3 separate regions of the Homo sapiens genome follow, and regions 1 and 2 are each linked to region 3. Evidence: fine-mapped expression QTL. A gene starts in region 3. Each other region holds a variant in brackets. All regions are shown on one strand. Distances are from middle to middle.

Evidence for each region.
Region 1: its variant is fine-mapped to the expression of MCOLN1 in whole blood (INTERVAL, PIP 0.98).
Region 2: its variant is fine-mapped to the expression of MCOLN1 in lung (TOPMed, PIP above 0.99).

The regions. Positions count from the first base shown.
Region 1 is chr19:7,487,930-7,496,066 of GRCh38, reverse strand. PEX11G (peroxisomal biogenesis factor 11 gamma) reads left to right here and starts at 7,032. Exons shown (of 5, transcript NM_080662.4): 1 at 7,032-7,116. The coding sequence starts at 7,057. RefSeq lists silencers at 3,030-3,324, 6,846-7,175, 7,226-7,285. The variant T/C (reference allele first, on the strand shown) is at 4,929.
Region 2 is chr19:7,468,517-7,476,689 of GRCh38, reverse strand. It overlaps ARHGEF18 (Rho/Rac guanine nucleotide exchange factor 18), which reads right to left. Exons shown (of 29, transcript NM_001367823.1): 27 at 7,559-7,865; 28 at 6,661-6,786; 29 at 4,212-6,564. The coding sequence ends at 6,392. Among named protein-coding and RNA genes, the nearest start is that of PEX11G, 16 kb to the left of the region's middle. RefSeq lists a silencer at 3,486-3,535. The variant T/C (reference allele first, on the strand shown) is at 3,459.
Region 3 is chr19:7,519,416-7,527,588 of GRCh38, reverse strand. MCOLN1 (mucolipin TRP cation channel 1) reads right to left here and starts at 4,965. Exons shown (of 14, transcript NM_020533.3): 1 at 4,808-4,965; 2 at 2,423-2,628; 3 at 983-1,150; 4 at 663-828; 5 at 1-69. The coding sequence starts at 4,838. It overlaps ZNF358 (zinc finger protein 358), which reads right to left. Exons shown (of 2, transcript NM_018083.5): 2 at 6,564-8,173. The coding sequence ends at 6,640. LOC105372261 (a long non-coding RNA gene) reads left to right here and starts at 2,625. Exons shown (of 3, transcript XR_936294.3): 1 at 2,625-3,239; 2 at 4,427-4,747. RefSeq lists a silencer at 4,802-4,931.

The DNA of each region.
Region 1 (8,137 bases), 32 kb after region 3:
GCCAACATGGTGAAACCCTGTCTCTACTAAAAATATAAAAAATAGCCGGGTGTGGTGGCGGGCACCTGTATTCCCAGCTACTCAGGAGCCTGAGGCAGGAGAATTGCGTGAACCCAGGAGGCGGAGGTTGCAGTGAGCTGAGATCACGCCATTGCACTCCAGCCTGGGAGACAAGAGCAAAACTCTGTCTCAAAGAAAAAAAAAACTAGCTGGGCATGGTGGCGGGCACCTGTAATCCCAGCTACTCAGGAGGCTGAGGCAGGAGAATCGCTTGAACCCAGGTGGTGGAGGTTGCAGTGAACTGAGATCGTGCCACTGCACTCCAGCTTGGGCCACAGAGCAAAACTCTGTCTCAAAAAAAAAAAAAGAAGCAAGGGCGGCTGAGTGCAGTGCCTCAGGCCTGTAATCCCATCACTTTGAGAGGCTGAAGCGGGAGGACTGCTTGAGCCCAGGTGTTTGAGACCAGCCTGGGCAACACAGTGAGACCCTATCTCTATAAAAAATTAAAAAGCCAGGTGCGGTGGCGCGTGCCTATAGTCCCAGCTACTTGGGAGGCTAAGGTGGGAAGATTTCTTGAACCCAGGACATTGAGGTTGCAGTGAGGGTGCAGTGAGCTATGATTCCGCCACTGCACTCCAGCCTGGGTGACAGAGTGAGACTCTGTCTCAGAAACAACACAAAACAAAAGAGCAGCTAGGGAGAGAAGTAACTATTATTCAGCATCTTAATCATCTGTATGAAGAAGTCAGAAGGAAGGAAGGAGAGAGGGAGGGAAGGAAGGAAGGGAGGGAGCGAGGGAGGGAGGGAGGGAGGGATTTGGGATCTGCAGTTCTGTTAGGTGTTTTGGGGGCACGGTTTTGTTTTTTGTGCAAATCCTGCCTCCTTAGAGCTCCAGGGAAGCTGGGAGCTGGAAGGAAGGAAGGAAGGACGAAGGGAAGGAAGGAGGGAGGAAGGGAGGGAAAGGAAGGAAGAAGGAAAGAAGGAGGGAAGGAGGGAGGGAGAGAAGGAGGGAAGGAAGCAGGGAGGGAGGGAAAGGAAGGAAGAAGGAAGGAAGGAGGGAGGGAGGGGAAGGAGGGAAGGAAGGAAGGAAAGAAAGAAAGAAAGAAGTCAGAAGACTAAAGCTGTGCTTGGTAAGGAACAGCCGTTGCTGGTATTAGCTAGTAGCAGAGGAGGTCCAGTTACTCTGATAGTGTGGACAGTGTTCGTGTTTTGCCTGTGTTCAGACATGATTATGGAGCAGGCTTGTTTTGTCTTGCTCTGCCGCGGTCACAGAGTGGCCTTGTCTGATGTCGGCGTCATGTGAGATTGTTTATGTCCAGCAGGAGGACACCAGGGCCCTGCTTTGACTGCCAGGCCAGCTCCTAGCAACACCAAGGCCAGCTGTGAACACCAGGCCAGCTCCTGTGTCTTTTTCAAAGGTCGAGCTCAGACCTAGCCAGATGGGGGACGCTGGGAGGGCTGGGCTGTGTCTGCAAAGCTCACTGCTGTATCTCTGTTGCCTAGAGCGGGACCCGGCACACAGGAAGCATTCGGGCAAATGCATTGCGCTGTTCCAAGGCTCTTGGGCCTGAGAGGAGGGATCTGCTTATTCATGCAGCAGCAGGCTTTGCGGCCAGTGACCTCTTTCCTCTGCATGTCTGGACCTTGGCTTTGGATTTTTTTTTGTTTTACTTTTTTAGAGATGGGTCTTGCTGACGCCCAGGCTGGAGTGCAGTGGCGTGATCTCGGTTCACTGCAACCTCCACCTCCTGGATTCAATCGATTCTCGTGCCTCAGACTCCTGAGTAGCTGGGACCACAGGCACAGGCCACTGCAGCTGGCTTGGCTTCAATTTTTCTGCTGTGAAAACAGTGACCCCGTGGCTGGGCGCAGTGGCTCATGCCTGTAATCCCAGCACTTTAGGAGGCTGAGATGGGAGGATTCCCCAAGGTCAGGAGTTCGAGACCAGCCTGGCCAACAGGGCAAAACCCCATCTCTACTAAAAATACAAAAATTAGCTGGGCGTGGTGGTGGGTGCCTGTAATCCTAGCTACTTGGGAGGCTGAGGCAGGAGAATCACTTGAACCCAGAGGCAGAGGTTGCAGTGAGCTAAGATCATACCACTGTATTCCAGCCTGGGTGACAGAGCGAGACTCTGACTCTAAAAAAAAAAAAAAAGAGTGACCCCCCCACTGGGGGAGAGGGGAGTGCACAAAGACCCGTGGACCCAAGTCTTTTTTTTTTTTTTGAGACGGGGTTTCACCATATTGGCCAGGCTGGTCTCCAACTCCTGACCTCAAGTGATCCACCTGCCTTGGCCTCCCAAAGTATTGGGATTACAGGTGTGAGTCACTGAGCTCAGCCAGTGGACCCAAGTCTTAAAAGGAGCTGGATGTGGAAGTTAAAGAGTCTCTTGGGGCCAGGTGTGGTGGCACACACCTGTAATCCCAGTGCTATGGGAGGCTGAGGATGGAGGATCACTTGAACCCAGGAGTTCAATGCAGCAGTGGTGCTATGATCATGCCACTGCACTCCAGCCTGGGCAACAGAGCGAGACCCTGTCTCAAAAACAAACAAGAAGAAAAAAAAAAGAGGCTGGGCATGGTGGCCCATGCCTGTAATCCCAGCAGTTTGGGAGGCCGAAGTGGGTGGATCACTTGAGCCCAGGAGTTTGAGACCAGCCTGGCCAACATGGTGAGACCCTATTTCTATTAAAAACTCCAAAAATTAGTGGGGGCGTGGTAGCAGGTGCCTGTAATCCCAGCTGGTTGGGAGGCTGAGGCAGGAGAATTGCTTGAACCCGGGAGGTGGAGATGGCAGTGAGCCGAAATCATGCCACTGCACTCCAGCCTGGGCAACCGAGTGAGACTCTGTTTAAAAACAAAAACAGAAAGAGAGAGAGACAGAGAGGAAGAAAATCACAGGAGTGGACAAGGCCTTTCTTGTGCCCCCTTGTGTTCCATGCTCCCTTGGAGCACAAGAAGAGATCTTTGGACAGGGCAGTGAAACTTACAAAACAGATTCTCTGTTTTCTGCCAGGCTGTGCGGATATAGCCATGAACAAGACAGGTCACCAGCAGGTAACATGGGTAGGAAGTGTCCAGGAGGGTGTGATCGGGTGGGTCCCGTGAGAGGATGACATTCGAGTAAAGGAAGTTAGGGAAGGAGGGAGCCACGTTGGTATCTGGCTCAAGAACATTTCTGCAGAGGAAACAGAACATGCAAAGTTCCTGAGGCAGGAATCTGCTGTAACTTTAAACAACAGGAGGAAAGCAATGCAGGAGAAGAGTAACAAGAGTTGAAATCAAGAGGAAATATTCTGTGAAAGAAAACTGGTTAACATCGAGGCCAGACGCGGTGACTCACGCCTATAATCCCAGCACTTTGGGAGGCCGAGGTGGGCAGATTTCTTGAGATCAGGAGTTGGAGACCAGCCTGGCCAACATGGCGAAACCCCGTCTCTACTAAAAGTCTAAAATTAGCCGGGCACAGTGGCGGGTGTGCTGTAATCCCAGCTATTTGGGAGGCTGAGGCATGAGAATCGCTTGAACCTGGGAGGTGGAGGTTGCAGTGAGCTGAGATCAGCACTGCACTCCAGCCTAGGCAATAGAGTGACACTCTGTCTCAAAAAAAAAAATTCAAACAAACCAACAAACAGACTCGTTGACATCATTAGTCATCAGGAAAAGGCAAAACAAAACCACAATGGGGTGGCACGTCACACCTACTACGATGGCTATCATAATCAAAAAAGGATGTTGCAAGGAAGTGGCGAAATTGGAACCTTTGTGTAATGCTGGTGGGGATGGAAAATGGTACTGCTACTGTGGGAAACAGTTGGGCAATTACTCAAAAAGTTCAACATAGAGTTACAAAATGACCCAGCAACCCCACTTCTAGGTATAGACCCAAAGGAATGGAATCCAGGGACTCCAACTACATATTCACAAATGTTTATAGCTGTACTTATTCACGATCGCTAAAAGGCAGAAACAGCCCAAATGACCATCAGCTGATACGTGGATAAACAAAATGTGGTCCATCCATATGGCGCAATGTTATATAGCTGCAAGTGGAATGAATTTCTGATACATGCTGCAACTTAGACAAACCTCAACACCATTATGCTCAGCTGCACGCAGTGGCTCACACCTGTAATCCCAGCACTTTGGGAGGCCAAGGCAGGAGGATCCCTTGAGTCCAGGAGGTCGAAACCAGCCTGGTGAACATAGCGAGACCGCATCTCTACAAAAGAAAAATTTTAAAAATTGGCCAGATGTGGTGGCGTGCACCTGTAGTCCCAGGCAATGTGGAGGCTGAGGCAGGAGGATCTCTCAGGCCCAGGAGTTCAAGGCTGCAGTGAGCTATGATCACACCACCGCACTCCAGCCTGGTGACACAGCAAGACCCTGTCTCAAAAACAAAAAGCAAAAACCAAAACAACCTATTATGCTTGGTGGAAGAGGCCGACACAAATGGTCACATATTGTATGATTCCATTTGTATGAAATATCAAGGAGGTCGGGCATGGTGGCTCATGCCTGTAATCCCAGCACTTTGGGAGGTCGAGGCAGGCAGATCCCTTGAGGTCAAGAGTTCAAGACCAGCCTGGCCAACATGGTAAAATCCATCTCTACTACAAATACAAAAATTAGCCGGGTGTGGTGGTGCGCACCTGTACTCTCAGCCACTTGGGAGGCCGAGGCAGGAGAATTGCTTGAACTTGGGAGGCGGAGGCTGCCGTGAGCTGAGATCATGCCACTGCACTCCAGTCTGGGTGACAGAGTGAGACTCTGTCTCAAAAAAAAAAAAAAAAAAAAAAAATCAAGAAGTGGTAAAAATACAGAGAGACAGCAGAGAATGCAGATTAGTGGTTGCCAGGGGCTGGGAGGAGGGAGGAATTGAGTGATTGCTTTATGGGAACAGGGTGTAGGGGAGGAAACATACTT[T/C]TTCCTTTATTCTTAGTTCTTAGCTGTGATGGATCCTTGCAATGAAAGAATTAAGAAGGGCGGGTGCGGTGGTTCACGCCTGTAATTCCAGCACTTTGGAAGGTCGACGTGGGAAGATTGCTTAAGCCCAGGGCTCAAGGCCAGCCTGGGTAACATGGTAAGACTCCATTTCTACAAAAAATAAAAAATAAAAAGAAATTAGCCAATTGTGGTGGCAGGCACCTGTGGTCCCACCTACTCAGGATGCTGAGGTGGCAGGATGGCTTGATCCCAGGAGTTCAAGGCTGCAGTGAGTTAAGATCGTGCCGCTGCACTCTACCCCTTTTTTGTGGGTAGTTGGTCAAGCTACCATGGGGCAGAATGTAGCAAGCTCTGGGCATCATCCTGGGTCCTCAGGCCCAGAGAGCACACAAGTGGCGGCTTCACATCTACAAATTTGGTTCCTCCCAGAGCGAGGCCCTGTCTCAAAAAAAAAAAAAAAAAAAAAAAAAAAAAATAGAGGCCAGGCGCGGTGGCTCACGCCTGTAATCCTAGCACTTTGGGAGGCAGAGACGGGCGGATCACGAGGTCAGGAGATCAAGACCATCCTGGCTAACACGGTGAAACCCCGTCTCTACTAAAAATACAAAAAAAAAAAAAAAAAAAAAATTACCCAGGCGTGGTGGCGGGCGCCTGTAGTAGTGCCAGCTACTCGGGAGGCTGAGGCAGAAGAATGGCGTGAACCCGCGAGGCGGAGCTTGCAGTGAGCCGAGATCGTGCCACTGCACTCCAGCCTGGGCGACAGAGCGAGGCTCCGTCTAAAAAAAAAAAATTAACAAGGGAAAAACAAATTTATTAACATGTGTACCTTATGTGTACATGGGAGATGCCAAGAGAAATGAGGTGGCTTATATAGCTTATATAACTCCTGCTTATATAGCACCTTCAACATATAGCAGCAAATTTTTGGAGAAGTGACAAGACGAAGGAAAAGGACATTGAGGCCGGGTGCGGTGGCTCACGCTTGTAATCCCAGCACTTTGGGAGGCCGAGGCGGGCGGATCACTTGAGGCCAGGAATTTGAGAACAGCCTGGCCAACGTGGTGAAACCCCGACTCTACCAAAAATACAAAAATTAGCCGGGCACAGTGGTGCACAGCTGTGATCCCAGCTACTTGGGAAGCTGAGGCACGAGAATCGCTTGAACCAGGGAAGCGGAGGACGCAGTGAGCAGAGATGGCGCTACTGCACTCTAGCTTTGGGGACAGAGCAAGACTCCGTCTCAAAAAAAAAGAAAAAAAAAAAAAAGACGTCTCCAGACAAGAGTCTAAAGGTGTCCCTGGTGATCAACCTTTGTCCTTCCTGGTAGAGAGGGGAGGAGGGCACCTTTGTACCTTTAGGTCCTGCTTTGAGGCAAATCAGGGAAGAACAGAGAGCTTTTCCGGTATCAGCTTCATTGATCTCAGCTCAAAATAATCCTACACCAAGGTCGCATATTTCAGAGGGGCATATGCTGGTCTCCTACGGGGGTCTCTCTTGGGGGTGATAAAAATACCCCGAAACTAGCAAGGGGTGATGGTTGTCCAACATGTGCATGTACTAATGTCACTGAATTGTGCATTTTTATTTTTTATTTATGTATTCTAGAACAATTCTTAACGTCCAAAGATAACGTCTTTCCTTAACGTCGAAAGATGCCTTGTTGTGATATTACAGCAGTCATTCCTGCTCACTACGGGCAGGCAGACAGTGCAGAAAAGGTGAAGCACAAAAACTAAAAAGGAAAATCTCTCCTTGAACCACTGCGAACAGGTTGGTGGTTTTGCTTGGAATATTTTTGGAGCGTGTGGGTAGTTGGTTAAACTTAGAAATATATTTTTTTGTGCGTGGGTAGTTGGCCAAACCGCCGTGGGGCAGAATGCAGCAAACTCCGAGGATGATCCAGGGTCTGCAGGCCTGGAGAGCACACACGTGTCGGCCCCACCTCTGCAAACTCTGTCCCTCCCCTACAGCGGACAAAAAGCCGGTCAGGGGGACAAAGGCCTGCGGCCGCGCCTGCGCGCAAGCCTTTGGGGCGCTCCCGGTACCCCGGCCTGGCCCCGCCCCCTGGCGCGGCGCGCCGACGTCGCGGTGACGTCACGGAGTTGCCATGGCGTCGCTGAGCGGCCTGGCGTCGGCGCTGGAGTCGTACAGGGGCCGGGACCGCCTGGTGAGGCAGGGGCGGACCGGGGCCGGAGGTCCTAGAGTTTGGCCCAAGCTCAGAGACTGGGAAACGGGCCAGAGAGGGGACGGGGTCGCCCAGGATACTCCGTCGCAGAGGCCCCGTCCGAGCTAGGCTCAAATGCGGTGCCCTAGCATTGGACATTTATGTATTTATTTATTTTGGCTGGAGTGCAGTGGTGCGATCTCTGCTCACTGCAGCCTCCGCTTCCCGGGTTCAAGCGATTCTCCTGCCTCAGCACTCCCGAGTAGCTGGGACTACAGGCGCCCGCCACCACTCCCTGCTATTTTTTTGTATTTTTAGTAGAGACGGAGTTTCATCGTGTTAGCCAGGATGGTCTCGATCTCCTGGCCTCAAGCGATCCACCTGCCTCGGCCTCCCAAAGTGCTGGGATTACAGGCGTGAGCCACCGCGTCTGGCCAGCGTTGGACATTTAGATAGTTTCTGCCAACCCAACCTGTCTGGACATTGACACACTGGCCAGATTCCCGTGTTTGGACGTTTTGGATCCGACCAGGCCACTGAAGTTGTCCTGAACAATCTCGTGTTGGGATTTGGGATGTTGCAGGGCTCCCCTGTGGCTGGACATTCACTTCCAACCAGATTCCCTATAGTTGGGCATTTAGGTTGTTTCAGCCAACCTAGACCAAAGAACACGCCATGGCCTGGGCCCTGCCATGCCTAAGCAGCGATGGGTTCCAACAAAACCCCAGTTGGTCATTTAGATCGTCTCTGCCAACCCAGCCTGGCTGGACGTTTACATACCAAACAGATTCCCATGTTTGGACATTTAGGATCTGACCGGGCCACTGTAGTTGGTCCCTGGGTTGTCCCAAACAATCTCATGTGGGGATTTAGGATATTGCAAGACTCTCCCTATGGCTGGACAGTTTTTAGTTCCAATCAAGTCCCATATGGTTGAACATTTAGGTTATGCCATCCATGCCCCTGAGTCTGGACTCTTAGCTTGTCCCCACCAGTCTCTTATAGGTAGACATTCAGGTTGTAC
Region 2 (8,173 bases), 51 kb after region 3:
GCTGTTCTCTACTCCCCAGAGTCCTGGGCACACAGGCCAGAGGCGCCACCTCTCATCAGGCCACCCGAGGGCGTGGCCTCATGCCACTGTGCTGCCGACGCAGGGCCACTGTGAGCATTTTAAGGGCTCCAGGCTGAGACTGGGCAACACACACTGGCATCGCTGAAGATACTTGGGGCTCCCACCTCAGCCAATGTGTGGTGGGATGGGATGAGGGCACTGCTTAGTCTGCTGGCTGAGAACAACCCTTCAGAGTCTGTGCACATGTGGCCTCTGGCAGACATTGTTGCACAGCCTGGCCCAGGAACACACAACAGCCAGTGTGTGTGCGCCCTTGGGCCTCATGTGATATCAATTGCACTGCCTTGATTTTTATCTTTTTGACCCAGGATCTCTGTCACCCAGGCTGGAGTGCAGTGGTGCGATCATAGCCTCACTGCAGCCTCAAACTCCTGGGCTCAAGGGATCCTCCTACCTCAGCCTCCTGAATAGCAGGAACTACAGGTGTTTATCACCAAATCCAGCTAATTTTTAAACTTTTTGTAGAGACAGGGTCTCACCACATTGCCCAGGCTGGTCTTGAACTCCTGGCTTCAAGTGAGCTGCCTGCCTCGGCCTCCCAGAGTACATTTGTGGTTTGTTTTTTACAAGGAAGATACCAGGTGGCTCTGAGCAGCTGGGAGGCCGGGGACTGCTCAGGGTCACACGGGTGCGGGAGACCCCATCTGTGGGGGCTCCTTCTGCCCAGGACTCACGAGTGGGCCAGGCTTGGTGGGTTTCCCCCTTCTTTCCCTTGTCGGGGGTGCAGGCCTGTCCTGGCCCTCAGCAGAGGCCTCCTTCCCAGCCCCTAGCAGCACCTGCATGATTAGGGCATCTCATTGTCTACCTGGAGACCCAACTACTTACTAGCTCATACCAGTGGGGCCCTTGGAGCAGCGCCTCTGTGTGGGGAAGCCACATGACCACCTGGTCACAGGTGCCAGGAGGAAAAGCAAGCCACCTTCAGGGATACAGCCTGGGCTGGGAAGGCCTTGGACACTGACCATGTGGAGCCCAGGCACAGAGCAGACAGGTTGGATGCTTCCAGAAAGGGAGGCCGCTCTCCCACTCTCTCAGCTGGTCCAGTGGTTGTGTGTGTGTGTGGTTGTGTGTGTGTGTGTGTGTTTAAACAGTTTTATGGAAATATAATTCACATATAAAATTTATCCACAGAAGGGGGACAGTTCAGTGGCTTTTAGTACATTCACAGTCGTGCAAGCAGAGCCACAGTCAACCTTAGAACATTCCATCACCCCAGAGAGAAACCTCACACCCCTCAGCTGTTACCCACCCGCAGCCCCCAGGCTTGGTGACCACTACTCTGTCCCTGGGTTGCCCATTCTGGTCCAGTGGTTTTCAACCTTTTAGGGGCTGGGAACAGACCCCTTTGTGAACCTTAAAGACTACGGGCCCTCTTTTTTGAGACAGAGTCACTCTGTCGCCTAGGCTGGAGTGCGGTGGCGCGATCTCGGCTCACTGCAACCTCCGCCTCCTGGGTTCAAGCAATTCTCTGCCTCAGCCTCCCGAGTAGCTGGGACTACAGGCACGCCCAAGCATGCCTGGCTAATTTTGTATTTTTAGTAGAAACGGGGTTTCACCACGTTGCCCAGGCTGGTCTTGAACTCCTGTGCTCAAGTGATTCACCCACTTCGGCCTCCCAAAGTGCTGGGATTATAGGCGTGGGCCACCGTGCCCAGCCACTACAGGCCCTCTTTGCAGAACATCTCATTTTAGGGTGCCTCCAAGCCCCCCAGGGCCCATAAGGAGTGCTGAGGAAGGCTGGGGGCATCCCAGTGGAGGGGTCAGCTAGGCAGAGGTCAGAGGACGGCTGGGGTTGGGGTGGAGCAAATCAGAGGGTGGGGGGAGACACACACACACACACACACACACACACACTCCAATGCCCACCATCAGGAGAATAGCAACTGGCCAGTTTTATGTTGTGTGCATTTGACCACAATGAAGAAAAAATAGACCAGGCGCGGTGGCTCACGCCTGTAATCCCAGCACTTTGGGAGGCCGAGACAGGCAGATCACCTGAGATTAGGAGTTCAAGACCAGCCTGGTCAACATGGTGAAACCCCATCTCTACAAAAATGCAAAAATTAGCCGGGCATGATGGTGGGTGCCTGTAATCCCAGCTACTCGGGAGGCTGAGGCAGGATAATTACTTGAACCTGGGAGGCGGCGGTTGCAGTGAGTCAAGATAGCGTGCCACTGCACTCCAGCCTGGGTGACAGAGCAAGACTCCATGTCAAAAAAATAAATAAAAATGTAATAAATTAATTACATCCTTTTTTTCTTTTTTTTTTGAGACGAAGTCTCACTGTTGTCCCCCAGGCTGGAGTGCAATCGTGCAGTCTCGGCTCACTGCAACCTCCGCCTCCGGGTTCAACCGCTTCTCTTGCCTCAGCCCCCAGAGTAGCTGGAATTACAGGTGTTTGCCACCACGCCCGGCTGATTTTTGTGTTTTTAGTAGAGATGGGGTTTCAACATGTTGGCCAGGCTGGTCTCAAACTCCGGACCTCAGGTGATCTGCCTGCCTCGGCCTCCCAAAGTGCTGGGATTACAGGCGTGAGCCACTGCGTCCAGCCCTTTTTTCTTTTTTTTTTAAATTTCATTTCTTTTTTCTATCCCCCAAATTTCCTTTTTTTTTTTTAAGCTCTTATAGACAGGGTCTCACCATGTTGCCTAGGCTGGAGTGCAGTGGCACGATCATAGCTCACTGCAACTTTGAACCCCTAGGCTCAAGCAATCCTCCTGCCTTGGCCTCCTGTGTAGCTGGGATTACAGGTGCACGCCACCATACCTGGCTAATTTTTTTTTTTTTTTTTTTTTTTTTGAGACGGAGTCTCGCTCTATTGCCTAGGCTGAGTGCAGTGGCGCAATCTCGGCTCACCGCAAGCTCCGCCTCCTGGGTTCACGCCATTCTCCTGCTTCAGCCTCCCGAGTAGCTGGGACTACAGGCGCCCGCCACCACGCCCGGCTAATTTCTGTATTTTTAGTTGAGACGGGGTTTCACCTTGTTAGCCAGGATGGTCTCGATCTCCTGACCTCGTAATCTGCCCACCTTGGCTTCCCAAAGTGCTGGGATTACACGCGTGAGCCACTGCGCCCGGCCAACCTGGCTAATTTTTTAATTTTTCTGTGAAGGGGTTTCACTATGTTGCCCAGGCTGGTCTTGAACTCCTGGGCTCAAGCTATCCTCCTGCCTCAGCCCCCGCCTCCCCAAAATGCTGGGATTACAGGGATGAGCCACTGTGCCCGGCCCTCCTTTTACTTTTTTAATATGGCTACTAAAAATGAAAAATTCCACACGTGGCCTGCATCATCTTCCTGGTGGACAGTGCTGCCTGAGAGTTCCCTTTTTGCGCTTCCTAGTGAGCTAGTGATCGACTTTACACCTAGTCCCCTTGTGA[T/C]GGGAAACCCTCTGTTGAAACAGCAGGGTCCTCGCCTCACTGGACCGGGACTCAGACCAGGTGGAAATGATGATTTCATACTCATGGCCAAGCTGCCTCTCACCCCAGATGGAGGAAGTGAAAGTTCCAGCCTTTGCGGTTATTGTGGATTAAAAGCAAAAAGATTTTCGTGGAGGCGCCACCAAAGCCTGAAGTGTACCCGGTGGGCAGGACCCTCCACAGGCACCTCCACGCCCCACTCCTGCCCTGTGCCCGTAATCCCAGCACTTTGGGAGGCTGAGGCGGGCAGATCACTTGAGGTCAGGAGTTCGAGACCAGCCTCGCCAACATGGCGAAACCCCATGTCTACTAAAAAAATACAAAAATTAGCTGGGCGTGGTGGTGCACACCTGTAATCCCAGCTACTCAGGAGGCTGAGGCAGGAGAAGTGCTTGAACCCGGGAGGCAGAGGTTGCAGTGAGCTGAGAACCTGCCACTGGTCTCCAGCCTGGGCGACAGAGCAAGACTCTGTCTCAAAAAAACAAACAAACCAAAAAAACAGAAACAAAAACAAAAACAAAACCCCCAACAACTCCTGGGGACTGGACCTGAAGGGGTCTTCAGAGCGTTAAGCAGGACACGGAGGGCAGGTGAGCGAGCTGAGGGGCAGGAGCCATGGGGAGCCCCCAACAGAACCTGCTACTCCTGCAGCAACGTTTGGGCAGAAGAAAATCCTCAAATAAAACCTCCAAGAACGTGCACGCCAGTCACCGCTCATCTCGGACACGTTTATTGCTAGAATCAGGTCTTAAGTTCTAAAGCGGGTCAGAAATATCCCGCAGTGAGGAAATGTTGTAATCATTGTAAAAATAATTAGCAGGTGACTAAGATCATGACCACAACTGACAAAGACGTGTGCAGATCCCACGAAAATAGGAACATTTGCTCGACTGTCAACTTTACAAATAAAATCGGGCTCCAACCCAGGAGTGGCCGAGGGGCACTGGCGAGGGAAGGGCTGTCGGCGCTGCCGCCCGATGCCTAGCACGACTGAGACCCCTCTGCCACATGGCGGGGACGCGGGGTTCCCACCGCGTGGCCGAGCAGAAATTCCTTGAACTTCTCCCCCATCCAAGGAATTGTGGCATCTCGGAGGGCTGGACCGGCACACGCCGGCTCAGGAGGGTGCCAGGGTCTGGGAATGTTCTCTTCACAACAGAACAGGAATGTACAGTCAGCTTCTGTAAAGTGCTCCGATACTCAGTACAAAAATACAAAACACTGATGATAAACATGGCACACATGGGATCTGACGGGGGGCGGACAGCGTCGCTGATGGCCAGGGACCGGGCTGGGCAGAGTTGAGGTCGTCGGAGGGGCCAGGAGCCTGGGGACACCTGGCCACTGTGTTCTCAGGACCTTGTCACCAATGGGCTGTATGGCTGTGGGGCTCTGGTTCCCGGTTGGCACCAGCTCCTGCCCCGCCCCCTCCTGAGCCCACAGCACCCAGTGGGCGCCTCTGCCCAGGGGAGCACTTCCTGATGGAGTTTCCCCTCCCTTGTGCCCATCTGTCCCCGAGTGGCGGGAATGTCCCTGTTCACTGTATTCAGCGTCACAGGAGTGCCTCTGCCAGCACAGTGGGAGAAGGGCTGAATCCCCCCGGGATCTGCAGTTCCCAGGACCCTGGGTTCGGGAGAAGGACTTGGCCCTGGCAGGGGCTCACATGTACCCCACTGGGAACAAGGACGATCAGCCAGGACCCAGTCCTACCACCAATGCTTGGGGTGCAGAACAAGGCTTGACATGGGCCCTTTCTCCACCGGAGCTGGATCGTGGATGGATCTCACCACCCTGGGATGTCCCAGCACCTTTGATGCTGCCCAACACCTCCTTCCTCCACCCCTCCAGGGAACGGACCGTAAGCTGCAACAGCTCACTACAAGCGAGGGGCCCGCACAGCGGCCACTTGTCCACTTGCTGCAACGTCTCTAGGTGCATCCTCTGCATGCCCTGGGACATGGCGCTCTCGACAGTCTGTGATGTGCCAGCCCCCACCTGGAAGGTGGGACGCCAGCCCTGGGAGCTCATTTCCCGGGGGCTGAGGACCCTGTGCCCAGGGTGTGTACCCGCCCTGGCTGAAGCTAGAGGCCCGCTCCCCCAGACAGGCTGAGCGTGTGAACAGCAACGGTTGCCCTTGGGAAGCAGAGTTTGGGAAACAGCTGGTTTCAAAACCAATGCCAAGTAAAAAGGGGCAAAGGTCAGCCCCTTTCACGATGGGCTTCCAAACCCACAGAACCTGACTGGAGGGCCACTGATGTTCCCTCAGTGGGCCCTGCCCCGTGGCCCTCTCTGCCCATGCCCCCGTGCCTGGCTCATTCCCTGACCCTGAGGTTCATGGTGAACCTGCGTGGGGCTCTGTTTGGGAAGTGGATTCTGCCTGATTCTGGGGACAGATGCTGCCGACGCCACCTGGCCCCTCCTGGTGCCCTAACCCTTGGCTCCACTGTCGCGCGGCGGCTGTGGAGCGTGGCCCCGGCCGGCAGCTCCTTCTCAAAGCAAGGTCTGTCCTGTCCTCAGCTCCGTGCAGAGCCGGCACCGTTCCTCACTGCCTCGGAAAAACAGCTCGGAGTTGATCTCCCCGCCACCCGGATGGGGTGCTATGATTTCAGACAGCTCCCTGGTTTAGTTCTGGCTCAACTTTCCATTAAAAACTTTCCTTTTTGAAAAAAAAAAAAAGAGATTCAGAAAGTGACCCCGGCACCACCGCTAACCCTACAGAAACAGCTGCAAGGCCCAGAGCACCGACAGGCTGGCCCCTGCCAGGCGGTCATCAGTGGTTTGCTAGGGAAGAGGAGGGGACAGCTGGGTGGGCATGGTGACCCCATGGGGGTCCCCAGAGAGCAGGAAGGGTGGGCAGGGCAGGGAGGGGCCTTGCACCTTGAGTCACGGCCCTTTTAGAAGAAGATGACGTCTTCTTTGCTGGCGTCCTCCTTGGCGCTGAGTGGTGTGGCCGGCAGTGGCGAGGGAGCTGGGGGCCCGGGCAGGAGGGCTGTGCCCCCGGCCTTGAGAGAGAAGCCCTCGGAGGGGCTGTCAGCTGGCGGTGGGCTCGGGGCGGGGAAGCCAGGGTCTGGAACAGAGAGAGGGTTCAGACTGAGCAGTCGCCGGGTGGTGCCGCAGCCCCGCTGCCCTGGGACTGGGCTCATGTCAGGGGGTGGGGGCTCACCTGGTGGGGGCGCAGGACTGTGTCTGCCGGGCAGGATAGGGCTCAGCGAGCGGCGGTTCCGTGAGGTGCTCTCATCTTTCCCCATGAGCTTGTTGAGCAGCAGCTGCTGCTTCAGGTCGAAGGACGCTGGAAGAGAGAAGGTATTTGGGCCAGCTCCAGGCTGGCCAGCTGTCCCCACCCGCCAGGGCAGCCTCCGAGAGCAGAGGGGCCTGGCCACCCCCACCTGACACTTCCCACGGGCGGCCTGGATCCCGTGACCTGAGCTGCTCAGATGCTAAGCCCCAGATTCAGGGAGAACGGCCCCAACCTCCCTGCGGAAGGACCTGCAGAGTCACCCGGCATCTGGAGAGGAGGCTGAGCCTCCTGTGGAAATAGCACAGGCCCTAGTGACCACGGGACACACCCTTAATCTTCAGAGAACATCCCAGAACATCCCTGGTTGTCCCCCAGGGAGGTGTCCCCCAGAGGAGCTCCTGGACATCCTCCGTGGAAACACTGGGGCTGCTCTGGGCTCCGTGTCCCACTCTGTGGAACGGCTCTGTGGAACTGGGACAATGAGCAGAGGCGCCTGCACCTGTCCCTGTCCCGGCTGTGCTGATCCCACGTGGCCAGGGATCTCTGCCTTCTTGCCCGTGTCCCTTTCTAAGGCTCCTGGTCCCCATCCCACTGTTTTGAGGGTTGAGGTGGAGAAGATGCAGGGTGGATCATCTCAGTTTTGGGCCTGGAGACCAAACACGGCCCTGTGTGGGGTGGCCTCAGCCACGATGCCAGCTGTGCCTTCTGGTTTTCCTCTCCAGAGGATGGCACAGGTGTCCCGAATTTCCTGGCTCCCAGCGAGCCGCTAGAGCCTGACCAGTTGCACCTTCCAGGCCCAGGCGAAGGGGTGGGGCCGGCTCACCTGAGCTCTCCCAGCGCTGAGAGCCCCTGCTCTTGCCGCCCTTGTCCTTGCCACCCTTGGTGGAGGCCGCCAGCTTGGTGGGGATCTGCTGCTGCACGGCCGCCTGCCTCTGGAACTGGTTGGTGGCGCTGAGCAGCTGGATGGGCACATCGCTCTTGGCCAGCCGGTTCTCGGTGGGGGCGCTGTCCCGGCGAGCCACCTCGGGGCGCTCTGCGTACTCTGGCCCCACGCCGGATGGCAGCATGCTCACACGAGGGCCCTCCAGCCCTTCCCCGTTGAAGCTGGGAGGGTGGCTTGGGGGCTGGGCCTGAGGGGACAACAGCAGATACATCCAATGTGAGGTTCCTGCTGTGCGGCCTCTGGAGAGCCCCCGAGGGTCGTGCACAGGAGACCCTCGACCTCTCCTGTTCTGGACAGAGCCAGGTGCAGCCTGAAGGAGCTGCTGGTCATTGCCCGTCCCCAACCCCTGCTAAATGTGCAGACTTGTGGTGACACTCAGTGGCACCCATACTGTCACACACTCATATACAAACATCTCACACATCCGTGTCCACATCTGTTCACAGAACCCATGGTTTATAGATTTGTTTTCAGAGACACGGTCTTGCTCTGTCA
Region 3 (8,173 bases):
TTTCCAAGAGGGTGAGATCGTCGCTGGGGGGCGGAGGGGGCCGCTCGGGGGGATCCACCTGGATGCAGTCTAAGGACAGGGAGTCAGGGAAGGGCCTCAGGGGGCCGGGGAGGCCAGGCTGGTCTCCCCAGAGTCCCCAGTGGCCTTCTTCCCTGTGCTTCCCCAGGGTTGGGTCATTCCTACAGGCCTGGCACTCTCTGGGCCTGCGGATGTTTTACTGAATGAGCCATATTAAAATATAACATCTGGTGCTTTCTACGTGGCAAGAGTCACACTCACACTAAGCATACTTGTTTTTTTTTTTTTTTTTTTTTTTTGAGACAGGGTCTCACTCTGTCACCCAGGGTGGAGTGCAGCAGCGTGGTCATAGCTTACTGCAGCCTCAACCTCCCGGACTCAAGCGATCCTCCTGCCTCAGCCTCCTGAGTAGCTGGGACCACAGGGGCACGCCACCACGCCCAGCTAATTTGTTTGTGCGTAGAGACAAGGTCTTCCTACGTGGCCCAGGCTGGTCTCAAACTTCTGGCCTCAAGCAATCCTTCCTCCTCAGCCTCCCAAAGTGCTGGTATTATAGGCGTGAGCCACCGTGCCCAGCCACAGCTGTTGATTTTAATCCCAGCAGCTCAGGCTCCCAACAGTGAAGCCTCGTCCTGCCCACTCACCAGTAACCACCATCGGATCAATGTCAAATGTGTCGTTGGCCGGGTCCACGTGGCCTCGGTGGTAGTACCGCTGGCAGAGAGCAAGCCCTGAGCCATTGGTCCAAGGGTCACCCCCACCACGGACATACGCATACCGGCCCAGTGACACGTCAGGCAACGCCAGGTACTGTGGGCAGAGAAGGGGAGGGCCTGTGAGTCCGGCCCGCTCTCTGCAGCCCACCCACCTGCACCTGCCCGCCCACCAGCACCTGCCCGCCCAACTGCACCTGCCCGCCCACCTGCACCTGCCTGCCCACCAGCACCTGCCCGCCCACCAGCACCTGGTCCACAGCATGGAAGATGGCCTGGTACAGCTGCTCCCGCGTGTAGGCTGCGAAGGTGTCATCCGCTCCGTCCGAGTAGCCCAGCAGGAAGAGGTGTCGGAAGGCGATGGTGTTCTCTTCCCGGAATGTCACAGCCAGCTGATTACTGAGCCCAAACAGGATGAGCTGGGGAGAGGGTAGTAGAGGTTGGCATGGCTAGGATGGGGGTTGGGGTGTATCTCCCTCAGGGCACAGGCCCTGGAAGAGGACAGGGAGGGCCCTGCAGATGTCCACTGGGGTGGGGCAGGGCCCTGCTAACTTGGGCCACAAACACGGATTTCACTTGTGCATTTCTTTGCTTTGATTAATTTCACCCCACCTCCTGGCATAAGCTCCATGCCACGCCCACCACTGTGTCCTCCCCCGTACAACACAGGGTGGGGACTCATCTATCTCACTGCAGGGACTAACGTTCATTAAATGTTTACTGGATGTCCGATTCTGTGTTAAACCCAAACTTTCAGGGTAAGTACCATGACTGGGTCCCTTTTCTTTTCTTTTTTGAGACAGAGTCTCACTCTGTTGCCCAAGTTGGAGTGCCATGGTATGATCTCAGCTCACTACAACCTCCACCCCCTGGGTTCAAGCAATTCTCCTGTCTCAGCCTCCTGAGTAGCTGAGTTACAGGTACCTGCCACCAAACCCAGCTAATTTTTGTATTTTTAGTAGAGACGGGGTTTTGCAATGTTGGCCAGGCTGGTCTCAAACTCCTGGCCTCAAATGATCCACCCAACTCAGCCTCCCAAAGTGCTGGCATTACAGGCATGAGCCACCATGCCTGGACAATTGGGTCCCTTTTCAGAGGGAAAATTAGAGGCATGGTGACATGCTAAAGTCAGCCCAAAACATGAAGTAAGCACTTAGGGCAGTGGCTGGGTCTGATTCATCTTGGGGTTCCCAGAGCCCAGCACAGGGTCTGGCATGGGGGAGGGAGAACTATCTGTGCAGCCATTGGGTCAACATGGTGTCAGACTGCCTGGGTTCAAATCCCAGCTCCCAATGTTCTATTGCTGTGTGACTTTGGGCAAGTCTCCTAACCTCTCTGAGCCTCAGAGTCGGCTTCTTTTTTTTTTTGAGACAGTCTTGCTCTGTTGCCCAGGCTGGAGTGCAGTGGCATGATTTCAGCTCACGGCAACCTCCGCCTCCCAATTCAAGCGATTCTCCTGCCTCAGCCTGCCAAGTAGCTGGGATTACAGGCACCCGCCACCACGCACGGCTAATTTTTTTGTATTTTTAGTAGAGATGGGGTTTCACCATGCTGGCCAGACTGGTCTTGAACTCCCAGCCTCAAGCGATCCACCGGCCTCGGCCTTCCAAAGTGCTGCTTTAAGACTCTCTTCAAGGAGCACAGCAGCCACAGGTGGCCTTCAGCTGGGGCCCCTGCTTGGCTGGCCTCACCTGCACCGTGACCACCAGGATCTTGACCACTTGCAGCATCAGCTTGCAGGGCTTGCGGCCCTTGGCTCGAAACTTGTCGCAGGGACTCATGAAAAAGTATTTGAGACGACGGCGAAGGTCTTCCTCTTCTGGGGGTGTCGGAGGGGCCGGTGAAGGCCCCGCCTGGGTCCCATACCCGGGGTTGGGGGTCAGAAGCCGCTCGGTCTCTGTGGGAATAGGAGAGGGCACTGGGGTGAGGCCTGGGCAACTCCCCTTTTCCCCTTTCTCCAACCAGGAAGGCAGCACACGCCCTATCTTCATGTCCCCATGCTCCTGCCAAGGAAGAGCTCTGAGAGGTCTAAAGAAAACCAGAAAACCTGTGACATTGTAGGTATCTATGCACCCGTCCTGCTCAGAGGTTATGAGTTTGGGTTTGGGAGGTACAGGGCCTGGGCTGATTCCTGCCCCTCCTGCTCACCAGCTCTCTGAGCCTCAGTTTCCTCATCTGCGAAATGGGGCAATAATATGTCTCATGGGAACGCTAAGGACTGGATGCTTATGAAGCATTGATCACAGGGGCTGGTCCATGGTGAATGTCAGAACATTTCATCAATGTTCCCGTTATTGATCAGTGGGGAGAGAATGAACTGCTCCCACTGGCTTTTCACTGGGCGTTCAAGCCTGCTGGGCTTATCCCAACTCCAGCTTCCAGACATGAGCATAGAACTCAGCCTGTATTCTAGGTTTGTCTGGACAAATACCCAAAAGATGACCTCTGGGTTCATTATAACCTGGCCCATCAGCTGACACTCTCAGAAGCCAAGGACCTGGAGAAGAGGTAATTGACAACATAAGTAATAATAATGGAACACATTCGCTAAAGACTCATTTTATCTCCCTGAAAAGCACCAGCTCCTAGAAATCATGCAGCCCTAGCATCAAATCCCAGACCTGCCACTTTACAGTAGGTTGACTCCAGGTACCTCCCTGAGCCTCCATCTCCTCATCTGAAGAGTGGAAATTTTAAAAAGGCGACCCCTTGGCTGGGCTCAGTGGCTCATGCCTGTTATCCCAACGGCTTTGGGAGGCCAAGGTGGGAGGATCCAGCCTAGGTAATACAGCGAGACCTCCCTGTCTACAAAAAAAAAACATTTTTTTTAAATAGTCAGGTGTGACGGCTCATGCCCGTAGTTAGTAGCTGGGACCCCATCTACCCGGGAGGCTGAGTTGGGAGGATCACTTGAGCCCAGGAGTTCGATGTTACAATGAGCTAGGATTATGCCACTGCACTACAGCCTGGGCAACAAAAAAAAGTTTATTAAAAAAAAAAAAAGTCCACCCTCTCCCTGAGCCTTGAGGTTGAGATCCTGAAGCTGCTCTGAGAATTCAGTGAGACACAGCAGATAAAGACCTCTTCAGCAAACACAAGCTGTTCTAATCACTGTTTATTTTTTTCCAGCCTAATGGTTAGATCTAAGCTTTCAGCAACTGCTGGAGTCAAAACCAGTCACAGTAGCCCAAAACTGTCCCTGTCACACCCCCATGGGGATGTGCTTTCTAGGGCCTGGCCCCGTGCTGCTTTCTAGGGCCTGGCCTCCTGCCTAGCAAAGCAGTCAGGATAAATGTGTGCACTGTCAGAACCTCCCTTGCAGAGAGGGACAAGTTCCCGGCCCCTCCCTTTGCAATGAGATGCTGCTGTGGCTGTTTACGACAAAGCCAGAGGGCAGGGCCCGCTTACAGAGCTGAGATTACAGCTAACCCACCCCAGACCCTACTAGCTGGGACACCGGGACATCTATCAGGTAGGGGTCCCCAGCTAGCTCCAGAAGGGGAAGCTAACACAAGGGGTCTTCCTCCAGCCTCCCCGAGGAGGGGTGGCATCAGAATTGGCTAGAAGCCCGAATTTAAGAAGGCTGCGCTTCCAGCGGTTTGGAAAGCTAAAACTGAGTTAATCGCCTGGGGGCAATCCCTCCAGCTCTCCAGGCTTGAGCTTAGGGAAGCTGAGCATTTGTCCCCTGGAATCAGGAGGGGAAGCCTGGGAGTCTCACGTGCGGGTTGGAGAAGCTGGTGCCCGCTGTCTGAGTTCCAGACGAAGTTGAGCAATCGGAACCTAGGCTCCCAGTGGGAATCCCAGGAACCTCGCCGCCCCAGAGGGAGAAGCTGGCGGCCCGGCGCGATCCCTGCCTGAGTTTGGGAACCCAGCAGAGCCTGGGTTCAGGAGGAAGAATTGGAGAGGCTGGTGCCCACCCGCCGCCCAAGTTCTAGGAGCCGTCTGCCCTTTTCTCCACCGTGAAAAGTCAGCGCTGGAGCTTAGAAAAAAAGAGACTAGGAGCTCCGCCGCCCCAGGTGGGAGACACAGCCCGCCCGCCTGAGTTCGGGGCCCCACGGTGCCGCCCGCGCCCTCACCTGAGCCGCGCGGACCCGCCGGGGCTGTCATGCTGGGGCGGGAGCGCGGGACGCAGGCGGGTACGGCGGGGCAGCCTGGGTCCGATCGCCCGCCGCTGTCACTGCGACCTCGCTCCCTCGCGGCGCGGCTTCAAACCCTCCGGCATCAGCTGATCTGTGCCTCGGTCACGTGACCCGGTAGCCCAGAGCCCCTCACGTGACCGCCTCTGGTCCCGCCCCCTGCGCCACGACAACCCCTGCCGGAACAGCGCGCATGCGTGCCTCTGCCGGCGCCCTCTGGGTCGAAGGCAGTCGCTAGGTCCTAGCGCCGACGCGCTCTGGGTGGCGGGGGATGGGCTGACTCTGAGTTTGGCAACGACGAGCTCTGCCCTGGCTCCCGGCCATGCCCCGAATCCGGTGCCAGGCTTGTGACTTCCATGTCCAGAGCTTGACCCCTTATCCTCCTTGGTGCCTGGTGATGACCCTGCCTACTATCTCAACGCTGTCTTCCTCTTTCTCCCAGAAACTCCTTTTACCCTTCTCCTGCGCATCTTCAGCAAACACGATTTCCTAATTATGTATCAAATAGAACCACTTATCCCCACCCCATGGCCCCCAGCCCAGAGTCTTCCAACATTCCTGGCCTGGATCTTTGCAGCAACCTCCTCCCCGATCTCAGCCTCCCTCCACTCCACTCTCTACCCAGCAGCCACAAGCATCTTCAAAGAATAATTCCTATCCTTCCTGCGAGAACCTGCCCTCGGCTTCCCATTGCTCTGTAATGACAGGCAGAGTCCCCACTCTCGTCTATCAGGGCCCTCTGATCTGGCTCCTACCTCCATCCAAAGCTCATCTTTCTATAGCCCCAGAGCCTTTGCATACTTTTGCCCTGGAGCGTAATGGTTAAGAATTTGGACCCTGGAGGGCAATTGGGATTTAAATCTAGGCACTGACAATGCCACTTCTACATCTTCCAGAGTCCCTTCAACTCCAAGCTGAGCGCAGTGGGCGGTGGCATGCACCGGCAATCCCAGCTACTCGGGAGGCTAAGGTGGGAGGATCGCTTGAGCCCAGGAGGTCGAGGCTGCAGTGAGCTATGATCACACCACTGCACTCCAGCCTGGGCAACAGAGCAAGACTGTCTAAAAAAAAAAAAAAAAATGTGCCTCAATTTTCTCATTTGCAAAATGGGGATATTCAAAGTCATCTACCTACTGGGGCTGTTGAGAGGATTAAATGAGAGAATGCAAAAACTATCGCATAAGGCTGGGCAAACAGTACTGATTATTAAATTAGTGATTATTGGGATTACAAAATCCTTCATTGAGAAAGCTGCCTGCCATTTATATCAGAAGTCTTGTTATGCTTCTCCTAGAATGTACTATACCCCGTAATTATTTTTTAAGTATTCTGAATTTAGTATCTATGAGCTCCATGCAGGTCGAGGCCATATTTATCTTGTTCCCTGCTGAGACCCCAGCAATCCAGAGATGTTTGTTGATTGCATAAATGAGCAACTTTTTTTGTCCACTTGTATACCTACTGTATGGGCTTTGAAGAGCAAGGGGTAAGTGAGAGGAACAGAGAGTGGTGACTAGTGGGATGGACCAGGATGAGACACTGTGGGTTAAGCTGGAAAGTCTAGCTGGTGGGCCCAAGAAGGAAGCCAGGACACTGGAGCTCCAGATTGTGGCTGGCCCTGGCCACAATGTCCCATCTCCGGAGCAAGGGGCTGTGCTCAGAAAGAAAGCACAAAAGGCAAGCCACGACACAGAGCCCGGAGGCAGTGGGAGGATTTTACTGACTGCACAACACACAACTTCCCCAGGCCCCCGAGGATGCCGGCGTCTCCTTCAGCCATCAGGCCCCAGCAGTGCCCCTTGCTCCTGTACCCACTCTGGACTCTCGCCGGTAGGGAGGGCTGGGCTGACAGTGCCACGAGTGGGAGAACAGGGGTCAGGGCAGGACACAGGGTTGGGATCAGGGCTGGGCACAGGATCAGGGTCTGGGCTGGGCACAGGATCAAGGTCTGGGCTGGGCACAAGGTCGGGACCAGCGTCGTGCCCAGCCTTTGGGTCAGAAGATTCCACAGGAGTAGGGCTGGGGGTGGATCTGGAGCCGGGGAGGGGTTTGGAGCTGGGATCCGGCAGAGTGCCCGGCCCAGAGCCAGGGTCAGGGTTGCGGCCAGAGCTGGTGCCAGGGCTGAGGCCCAAGCCAGAGCCGAGCACAGAAACAGCATCAGGACCCAGGAGGGAGACCTGCCCCGGCCTCATCATGGATGCAGGGCTTAGGCCAGGCCCGAGGCCCAGGCCGGCGGCCGCTGCTGCAGCTGCAGCGGCCGCGGCAGCTGCAGCAGCGGCTGCACCCTCATGCACCCGTTTGTGCTTGGTGAGGCTGGAGGCCTGGCCGAAGGCCTTCCCGCAGAGCTGACAGCGATAGGGACGCTCGCCCGAATGCACGTGCAGGTGCTGGAGCAGCGCTGAGCTCTGGCCGAAGGCCTTGGAGCAGTGCGGGCAGGCGTAGGGCCGCTCGCCCGTGTGGATGCGCAGGTGGTGTTGCAAGTTGGAGCTCTGCCCGAAGGCTTTGCCGCAGTGGGGGCAGCGGTAGGGGCGCTCGGCCGTGTGTGTGCGCTGGTGCTGCAGCAGCGCCGAGCTCTGCCCGAAGGCCTTGCCGCACTGCGGACACGGGTAGGGCCGCTCGCCCGTGTGCGTGCGCAGGTGTTTGAGCAGCGCAGAGCCCTGGCCGAAGCCCTTGGCGCACACCGGGCACTTGTGGGGCCGCGGGCCGCCGTGCGTGCGCAGGTGCTGTGCCAGGAGCGAGCCGTGCCCGAAGGCCTTGCCACACACCGGGCAGTGGTGCGGCTTCTCCCCGCTGTGGCTGCTGCGATGTTTCAGCAGCGTGGAGCGCCAGCCGAAGGCCTTGCCGCAGGCCGCGCACTGGTACGGCCGCGCCCCAGTGTGGATGCCACGGTGCTGAGCCAGGGTGGCACCGTGGCTGAAGGACTTCCCGCAGTCGGGGCAGCGGTACGGCTTCTCGCCGCTGTGCGTGCGGCGATGCTGGCTCAGCCCGGAGCTGCGGCGGAAGGCTCGCCCGCAATCCGGGCAGGAGAAGGGCCGGGGCGGGCTGGCGGGGGCGGGGAGCACCGCGGGGCTGGTGGCCAAGACCTGGGGGGTGGCAGTGAGGCCAGAGGAGATGGGGTCCACTTTTGGATCGCCGGGGCTGAGGGTGTCGCTGTTAGGATCGAGAATCAGGGGTACGGGGCCAATCACATCTGGATCGAGGTCGAAACTCGAAGACATGGGGTCGGGATCTTGGGGTTCCGAGCCCGGAGCTTCGGCGTCGGGGTCCAGATCCTCCGAGACGGGCTCCAGATCTTCATAGCTGGGG